3 linked regions of the Homo sapiens genome follow. The protein of the gene in region 2 purifies or fractionates together with the protein of the main gene of each other region. This does not show direct contact. Each region holds a gene or a part of one and is shown on either strand. Other genes may lie near its edges.

Evidence for each region.
Region 1: the proteins of ITLN1 (region 2) and NACC1 purify together in Homo sapiens (affinity purification with mass spectrometry; 3 studies listed by BioGRID and IntAct, with this or other methods). This does not show direct contact.
Region 3: the proteins of ITLN1 (region 2) and ACSL1 purify together in Homo sapiens (affinity purification with mass spectrometry; one large-scale study listed by BioGRID and IntAct). This does not show direct contact.

The regions. Positions count from the first base shown.
Region 1 is NC_000019.10:13,124,610-13,128,264, forward strand, and holds part of NACC1 (nucleus accumbens-associated protein 1), read left to right. Parts: intron 1-3,655. UniProt on the Homo sapiens protein: Functions as a transcriptional repressor. Seems to function as a transcriptional corepressor in neuronal cells through recruitment of HDAC3 and HDAC4. Contributes to tumor progression, and tumor cell proliferation and survival.
Region 2 is NC_000001.11:160,878,961-160,882,185, reverse strand, and holds part of ITLN1 (intelectin-1 precursor), read left to right. Parts: coding exon 1-229; intron 230-873; coding exon 874-1,032; intron 1,033-1,477; coding exon 1,478-1,598; intron 1,599-2,771; coding exon 2,772-2,875; intron 2,876-3,225. UniProt on the Homo sapiens protein: Lectin that specifically recognizes microbial carbohydrate chains in a calcium-dependent manner.
Region 3 is NC_000004.12:184,755,041-184,757,632, reverse strand, and holds the end of ACSL1 (long-chain-fatty-acid--CoA ligase 1), read left to right. Parts: intron 1-367; coding exon 368-508; 3' UTR 509-2,038; downstream 2,039-2,592. UniProt on the Homo sapiens protein: Catalyzes the conversion of long-chain fatty acids to their active form acyl-CoAs for both synthesis of cellular lipids, and degradation via beta-oxidation. Preferentially uses palmitoleate, oleate and linoleate.

The sequences.
Region 1 (3,655 bases), on a different chromosome or scaffold from region 2:
CTGGTTCTGGGTCAGGCAGGCAACCTGAGTAGCTGCCAGGATCCAGCCACATCCTGCTGAGCTGCATGAAGGACTGTGGGGCTCTCTGGGGCCTTTGTTCCTTGTTACACTTGGAGTTGCTGGTCTCCCTTAACTGGCTTGTAGGTCTTAGCCCATCTGGGCTGCTGTAATAAAATACCTTAGACTGGAAGCCAGGCACATTGCTCATGCCTCTAACCTCAGCATTTAGGAGGCTGAGATGGGAGGATTGCTTGAGCCCAGGAGTTCGAGACCAGCCTGGGCAACATAGTGAGACCTCATCTTTACAAAAAAATTTAATTTTAATTTGTTTTTCACCCGTGACACAGCCCTCAGGAGGTCCTGAGAACATATGTCTCTCGTCTTTGCAAAAAATTGTTTTAATTAGCCGGGCGTGGTGGCACACATCCCTAGTCCCAGCTACTCAGGAGGCTGAGGTGAGAGGATAACTTGAGCCCAGGAGTTTGACGCTATAGTGATCCAAGATTGCACCACTACGCTTCAGCCTGGGTGACAGAGCAAGACCCTGTCTCAAAAAAACAAAACAGACTGGGCCATTGATAAACAACAGAGATGAGCTGCTCATAGTTGTAGAGGGTGGGAAGTCCCATATCACGGTGCTAGCAGATTCCGTGTCTAGTGAGGGCCCATCTCTCATAGATAGCACCTTTTAGGTATCTGCACAGGGTGGCAAGGACAAACAAGCTCCCCCTCTTTTATACGGGCACAGTTCGTATTCATGAGGACAGAGCCCTCCTGACTGAATCAACTCCCGAAGGCCCCACTTTTTTTTTTTTTTTTTTTTTTGGTGAGACGGAGATTTACTCTTGTTGCCCAGGCTGGAGTGCAGTGGTGCGATCTTGACTCACCGCATCCTCCGCCTCCCAGGTTCAAGCGATTCTCCTGCCTCAGCCTCCCAAGTAGCTGGGATTACAGGCATGTGTCAGCATGCCAGGCTAATTTTGTATTTTTAGTAGAGACGGGGTTTCACTGTGTTGCCCAGGCTGATCTCGAACTCCTGATCTCAGGTAATCCGCCTGTCTCTGCCTCCCAAAGTGCTGGGATTACAGGCGTGAGCCACTGCACCCAGCCCTTTTTAAATTTTTGATCAACAACTTCTTTTTTATTTTGAGATGGAGTCTTGCTCTGTTGCCCAGCCTAGAGTGCAGTGGCGTGATCTTGGCTCGCTGCAACTTCCACCTCCTAGGTTCAAGCAATTCTGCCTCAGCCTACCTAATAGCTGGGATTACAGGCGTGCACCACTGCGCCCAGCTAATTTTTGTATTTTTAGTAGAGATGGGGTTTCACCATATTGGCCAGGCTAGTCTCCAACTCCTGACCTCAGGTGATCCGCCCACCTCGGCCTCCCAAAGTGCTGAGATTACAGGCGTGAACCACCATACCTGGCTGAAAGGCCTAACTTTTTTTTTTTTTTTAGACGGAGTCTTGCTCTGTCACCAGGCTGGAGTGCATTGGCCCGATCTCGGCTCACCGCAACCTTCGCCTCCTGAGTTCAAGCGATTCTCCTGCCTCAGCCTCCCGAGTAGCTGGGATTACAGGCACGTACCACTGTGCCTGGCTAATTTTTTGTATTTTTAGTAGAGATGGGGTTTCACCATGTTAGCCAGGATGGTCTCTATCTCCTGACCTCGTGACCTCGTGATCCGCCCTCCTCAGCCTCCCAAAGTGCTGGGGTTACAGGCGTGAGTCACCGTGCCCAGCCAGCCCCACTTCTTAATACCACTACATTGGAGATAGGCTTTAGCATGTGAATTTTGGGAAGAGGCAAACATTCAGACCATAGCATCTGTCGACGGCCATGTCACAGCTTCCCTGGAAAGACATCAGGAAAGGACTGTGCCTTTGACAGTCTCTCACAGGCCCATGCTGGCTGGGGAATTCCTCAGCTCTCTTCCCTAAGAGCTGACAGTTACTACTCCCAGGAATCATCCTGCCAGCCCCCTTCCTGCAGATGGCAGGATCCACCGGCAGTGTGAGCAATTCGTCAGGTAACACTGCGGTCTCAATAGGCCCCTGACTGCTGGCTACCCACCTTGGCAGCTGTCAAAGGAGGTCGTCTGTCTGCCCAGCCACAGATAATGCTTCTGAGCCCTATTCCTGTTTGAGCCACGTTAATGTGGAACAAAACAGGGAGTTAGGTTAGGAGGAATGGAAGTAATTCTTTGTTCATTTTTTCCACGAAGGACTGTGAGCACCCACTGTGTACCTGGCCAGGTCCTAGGGGTAGAGGACACAACAGGGATCTACACAGGCAAACTCCCTGCCCCAGGGAAACTGACATGAAGCCCCAAAAAATGCCCAGTTTGGCAGGGGTGGTGGCTCGCACCTGTAGTCCGAGCACTTTGGGAGGCCAAGGCAGGAGGACCACTTGAGCCCAGGAGTTTGAGACCAGCCTGGGCAACATTAGGGAGACCTCGTCTCTATTACTAAAAAATGCACAAATAAATAATTTTTTTTTAGAAAAAGAAAAATGGCCAGCTTGCTAAATAAATCATAGGAACTCCCAAGAAGGATAAGTCAAGCAGGGAGAATCAAGCCAGGGAGTTAGTGTCGGGAAGGGCTTTGTTGGTCAGACGCAGTGGCTCATGCCTATAATCGCAGGGTTTTGTGAGGCTGTGGCAGGAGGAACACTCAGCTGGGAGTTGGAGACCAGCCCAGGCAATATAGTGAGATCACGTCTCTACCAAAAAAAAAAAAAAAAAAAAGCATACATATACATATACTTTTTTTTTTTTTTTTTTTTTTTTTTTTTCGGTTAACTGGATGGGCCGGGTGCCGTGGCTCACGCCTGTAATCCCAGCACTTTGGGAGGTGGGCGGATCACTTGAGGTCAGGAGTTCAAGACCAGCCTGGCCAACATGGTGAAACCCCATCTCTACTAAAAATAGAAAAATTAGCCAGGCATGGTGGTGGTTACCTTTAATCCCAGCTACTCAGGAGGCTGAGACAGGAGAATCGCTTGAACGATTCTTGCAGTGAGCCGAGATCCCACCACTGCACTCCAGCCTGGGCGACAGAGCGAGACTCTGCCTCAAAAAAAAAAAGAAAAAAAAAAATTAGCTGGATGTAGCTCCTGTGGTCCCAGCTATTTGGGAAGCTGAGGTGGGAGGATTGCTTGAGCCCAGGAGTTTGAGGCTGAAGTGAGCTATGATGGTGCCACTGTACTCCAGCCTGGGTGACAGAGCAAGGCCCTGTCTCCAAAAGCAAAAGAGTAGAGAAAGGGCTTTATGTGACCAGGGAGAGTATGAAGAGCTATGGCTGTCCCATTCCCATTCTAGTAGGTCCGAGAGCAAGCAGGGCCAGACTGCCAGGGGCCCCAATAAAGCATTGTAGGGGCCCAGGCAGTGTCACTTGGGGCCAAGGTAGTACAAAGTGGTTTTGAAGGAGTTGAAGATGAATCCAAGGATCTGAATGAGGAGGGCCAGAGCTGGTGAAGCTACGGCATTCACAGGTTTTGGGAAGGACTGGAGCCAGGTCCTGAAATTGTTGAGTGGAGGTGTCTGGGGTGTGTGCGAGTCTGGCATTCACAGGGAAGTCCGGGCCAAAGACTCCAGTGGGGGAGGCATCAGTGAATAGATGGTGCTTCAGGCCTGTCTTAGTCAGCTCAAGCTGCCAC
Region 2 (3,225 bases):
CACTGAGAATGGTGTTATCTACCAGACCTTCTGTGACATGACCTCTGGGGGTGGCGGCTGGACCCTGGTGGCCAGCGTGCACGAGAATGACATGCGTGGGAAGTGCACGGTGGGCGATCGCTGGTCCAGTCAGCAGGGCAGCAAAGCAGTCTACCCAGAGGGGGACGGCAACTGGGCCAACTACAACACCTTTGGATCTGCAGAGGCGGCCACGAGCGATGACTACAAGGTTGGTGCCACTTCTTACCCACTCGGGTGAGGGTGAGGAGTGGAGTGTGGCTGGCCACAAGCCTGCAGGAGGGATGGCTGGAAGGTAGGGGTGTGGGATGGGCTGGAGAAGAAGAGAGAAATACTTATATCTTTTTTTTTTTTTTTTTTTTTCTTGAGACGGAGTCTTACTCTGTTGCCCAGGTTGGAGTGCAGTGGTGTGATCTCGGCTCATAGCAACCACGGCCTCCTGGGTTCAAGTGATCCTCTGCCTCAAAAGTAGCTGGGACTACAAGCGCCCACTACCATACTCAGCGAATTTTTGTACTTTTAGTAGAGATGGGGTTTCACCATGTTGGCCAGGCTCGTCTCGAACTCCTGACCTCAAGTGACCTGCCCGCCTTGGTCTCCCAAAGTGCTGGGATTATAGGCATGAGCCACCACACCCAGCCAATTTACACTTTGAATCACAACTTCCTCCTAACAAGGCTGTTAGGGCCCTGGGTGTGGTGGGATCATCGGCTGGGAGTGGGGTGTCTGAGTATGGTTGGCCATCTGCTCATCTGGAGTCCAGAGCTCTCACAGTCCAGCTGAAGTTGCATGTGTGGACCTTCTGCCTCCTGGGACCTCCTGGCCCAGTCAGGCTCAGTGTCTGTTGCTTTCCAGAACCCTGGCTACTACGACATCCAGGCCAAGGACCTGGGCATCTGGCACGTGCCCAATAAGTCCCCCATGCAGCACTGGAGAAACAGCTCCCTGCTGAGGTACCGCACGGACACTGGCTTCCTCCAGACACTGGGACATAATCTGTTTGGCATCTACCAGGTACAGAAGGCTGCTGGCTGGGACTGGTTTTCATGGGTGTACAGAGAAGCAAGTGTTAGAGGTTGGGCAGGAGTCATTTTTTAATGGGTCTGTCTCCCATGTTCTTCTAACCCAGATTTGCTGATGGCTTCTGTTGCTTCTCTTAGGAATTCTAAGCCAGGCAAGAGAAGGGACCTATTGGAGAGGACAGCTGGGGCAGGAAGAGTGTGGATGGGTCAGGGAGAAGGAGAGAGAGATAATGAAGTGGTCCAGGCTGCCGCAGAAGCACAGCTCTCGCCTAACTGGCAGCAGTGTCATGGAAAGATTCTTATTTTGACTGGTTTTGAAGTAATCTCAGTTACTGAGAAAGCATTGTTTCTCCTCTATGAATGGCAGCATCCCAGGAGATGCTGGTAATGGCAAAGCTATTGTCTTTACTCCATGACTTTTTCTGTGTTCTTTGTAGAAATATCCAGTGAAATATGGAGAAGGAAAGTGTTGGACTGACAACGGCCCGGTGATCCCTGTGGTCTATGATTTTGGCGACGCCCAGAAAACAGCATCTTATTACTCACCCTATGGCCAGCGTGAGTCTTTAATGATCCTCTGAACTCCTGGTAGGAAAGGGAATACATTCAACTATGCTAGGTAACAGTTATGCATCGGACTGAAGCTTGGTTCTCTCCTGTAATGTTCCCTATATTGCCCCACTTGATTTGCATGGCTGCCTTTGAGATCTGAACTTTATTAACCTCATTTTAGGAAACTGAAGCACTGAGAGGTTTAGAAACTTGTGAAGATCACAAGGCATATGTGGAAGAATCAGCAACTGGGGTGAGGAAATTTGGCTCCAGACTTTTTTTTTTTTTGAGATGGAGTTTTGCTGTTGTTGCCCAGGCTGGAGTGCAATGGCGCAGTCTCAGCTCACTGCAACTTGTGCCTCCCAGGTTCAAATGATTCTCCTGTCTCAGCCTACCAAGTAGCTGGGATTACAGGTGCCCACCACCACGCCCAGCTGATTTTTGTATTTTTAGTAGAGATGTGATTTCACCATGTTGGCCAGGCTGGTCTCCAACTCCTGACCTTTGGCGATCCGCCCCCTTCGGCTCCCAAAGTGTTGGGATTACAGGTGTGAGCCACCACGCCCGGCCAGGCTCCAGACTCCAGACTCTTTACTCCTAACAACCCACTCTCAGCCCTGCAGGAGCTTGTTAGGACCAGGCCAGGTCCATGTGCACAGAACAACCAAAAAAATGGCGAGACTTTTTTTTCTATTGTGAGTTTATTTTGTGTGAAGCCAAAGTTGGTAGCATAGTACGCTCCGCAGAGGCTGAGCATATATTATAGAACTCAAAGCTGTTATTATTTACATTTTGGAGTTGAGATTTTAAAATAAAGGAGAAAAGAAAAATGTAAACAGGAACAGAGTGAATACATCTGTTAATTTCTGCAACTCAGCCCTTGGAGATGTTCAGTGGTGATCTTCCTGCAGAGTTGAATTTCTCTTCACAAGCCTCTGGCAGATGAGGAGCCCTCTCTGAGGACCAGCTCTTCATCTCTGGGGTTGGGAAAAGGTCCCTCTTAGCTAAGTTTGAGGCCAGGATGTAGCAGCCATTGGCCACAGGGGTGCTGGGCTCCACCAGTACAGCTGGAGTGTTGGGCTGTAGCCTGAGCTTTGGCATCGAGAGCCTCTGGGCTGGCCTAAGGAAAGCAATTTCTAGCATCTTCCTTGAATGCTGTTTTCTGCCTCTTGTTTTCAGGGGAATTCACTGCGGGATTTGTTCAGTTCAGGGTATTTAATAACGAGAGAGCAGCCAACGCCTTGTGTGCTGGAATGAGGGTCACCGGATGTAACACTGAGCACGTGAGTCTCTGTGGGGACTGCAGGGACCTGTGAGTAAGGTCGAGTTTGTCCGTGTGTGTTGGTATGTGTGAGTGTGTTGAGTGTGGTATGACTGGGGTGTGTGTGTACGTGTGTGGGAGTGTGACCTTCTCTTGCTCATTGCTGAGCTTCAGGGGCCAGGGCCATGGGAACTTTTGTCCAGGTATACATATCCTGTCACTTTGAAGACCAAAATCAAGGGGTGAGGCTTCAAAAGAACCATTACTGGGTGTTCAGCCTTTGTGAGAAAACACTCAATCGCTTGGAGCTGGGGTGAGGCTTGTGTGCTGAAACATTGTGTAGAAGTCTTTAGAGCTGAGATTCCTTGAGAA
Region 3 (2,592 bases), on a different chromosome or scaffold from region 2:
ATGACCTTCATCTGAGTGGGTGAATTCCTGTAAAACAAATTTTCCATTAAGATTTTTTTACAGGTAGATTATATAAACATATGGGGTGACCTAAAGACATACATGAGGAATAAATAATGGAGTAGTTTGACAGGGGAAAGGTTTTTAAATCAAAAGCATTTATTCTCTTTTCCTGGATATCAGAATATGATCCCGAATCCTATCCTAAGAATAGGATGCCTGTCCTTTGTTGAGAAGGTGCAGCTTGGCTGAAATGAGAGGATGGATTGGATGGCTGGAGAGTGTTGATCCCCTCCAAGGCTTACGTGCTTTTGAGACTGGTGGCCCGTGTCCTTTTTCCTCTTTTAACTGCCTTGTTTATTGGCAGGTCAAAGGCATCACATTGCACCCTGAATTATTTTCTATCGACAATGGCCTTCTGACTCCAACAATGAAGGCGAAAAGGCCAGAGCTGCGGAACTATTTCAGGTCGCAGATAGATGACCTCTATTCCACTATCAAGGTTTAGTGTGAAGAAGAAAGCTCAGAGGAAATGGCACAGTTCCACAATCTCTTCTCCTGCTGATGGCCTTCATGTTGTTAATTTTGAATACAGCAAGTGTAGGGAAGGAAGCGTTCGTGTTTGACTTGTCCATTCGGGGTTCTTCTCATAGGAATGCTAGAGGAAAGAGAACACTGCCTTACAGTCACCTCATGTTGCAGACCATGTTTATGGTAATACACACTTTCCAAAATGAGCCTTAAAAATTGTAAAGGGGATACTATAAATGTGCTAAGTTATTTGAGACTTCCTCAGTTTAAAAAGTGGGTTTTAAATCTTCTGTCTCCCTGTTTCTCTAATCAAGGGGTTAGGACTTTGCTATCTCTGAGATGTCTGCTACTTGCTGCAAATTCTGCAGCTGTCTGCTGCTCTAAAGAGTACAGTGCACTAGAGGGAAGTGTTCCCTTTAAAAATAAGAACAACTGTCCTGGCTGGAGAATCTCACAAGCGGACCAGAGATCTTTTTAAATCCCTGCTACTGTCCCTTCTCACAGGCATTCACAGAACCCTTCTGATTCGTAAGGGTTACGAAACTCATGTTCTTCTCCAGTCCCCTGTGGTTTCTGTTGGAGCATAAGGTTTCCAGTAAGCGGGAGGGCAGATCCAACTCAGAACCATGCAGATAAGGAGCCTCTGGCAAATGGGTGCTCATCAGAACGCGTGGATTCTCTTTCATGGCAGAATGCTCTTGGACTCGGTTCTCCAGGCCTGATTCCCCGACTCCATCCTTTTTCAGGGGTTATTTAAAAATCTGCCTTAGATTCTATAGTGAAGACAAGCATTTCAAGAAAGAGTTACCTGGATCAGCCATGCTCAGCTGTGACGCCTGAATAACTGTCTACTTTATCTTCACTGAACCACTCACTCTGTGTAAAGGCCAACAGATTTTTAATGTGGTTTTCATATCAAAAGATCATGTTGGGATTAACTTGCCTTTTTCCCCAAAAAATAAACTCTCAGGCAAGCATTTCTTTAAAGCTATTAAGGGAGTATATACTTGAGTACTTATTGAAATGGACAGTAATAAGCAAATGTTCTTATAATGCTACCTGATTTCTATGAAATGTGTTTGACAAGCCAAAATTCTAGGATGTAGAAATCTGGAAAGTTCATTTCCTGGGATTCACTTCTCCAGGGATTTTTTAAAGTTAATTTGGGAAATTAACAGCAGTTCACTTTATTGTGAGTCTTTGCCACATTTGACTGAATTGAGCTGTCATTTGTACATTTAAAGCAGCTGTTTTGGGGTCTGTGAGAGTACATGTATTATATACAAGCACAACAGGGCTTGCACTAAAGAATTGTCATTGTAATAACACTACTTGGTAGCCTAACTTCATATATGTATTCTTAATTGCACAAAAAGTCAATAATTTGTCACCTTGGGGTTTTGAATGTTTGCTTTAAGTGTTGGCTATTTCTATGTTTTATAAACCAAAACAAAATTTCCAAAAACAATGAAGGAAACCAAAATAAATATTTCTGCATTTCAGGTGAGTGAGGCATCTTTTTTAATGTCATGTTTAATATTCGGAACAGCCTGTAATGTGCACAAGCGAAGAGCAAGAATGGCCCTGGGCCTGGAATCCTTCCCAGTTGTCTTCTTTTCTTCTTAGTCACCCTCCTCTAACTCAGCTGGCCTCAGGCACTGACAGACACTGACCCGAGCCTCCCACCAGGTTGTCTGTGGCAAAAGTCCTAACTGGTTGTGGAAAAGAAAGTCATGGTGTGAATAACAGAGAAGGTCCTGAAAATGCAGCTTCCTTGCTGGAAAATGTATTTCAGGCGACGCTGGCTGTAACTGGTGATTCCGTGGTGAATGTAATCCCACTATTGTATTTTAGCACTGTTTAGTCATTCTCTTACTGTAGAATTATTTCAGATGTCTCTTTATAGCAGCCAACTTTTTCTTGTTTCTTTTCTTCTATCTCCACCCTATTCCTTCTGTTACCATTTTAAAGATTTTCTTTTCCACAGGTATTAATGAATCAACCCCCTAATTTCTTCCAAGCCTGTTGTGTTTAAATCTAGTTTCCTGTCTTAAATTCTGT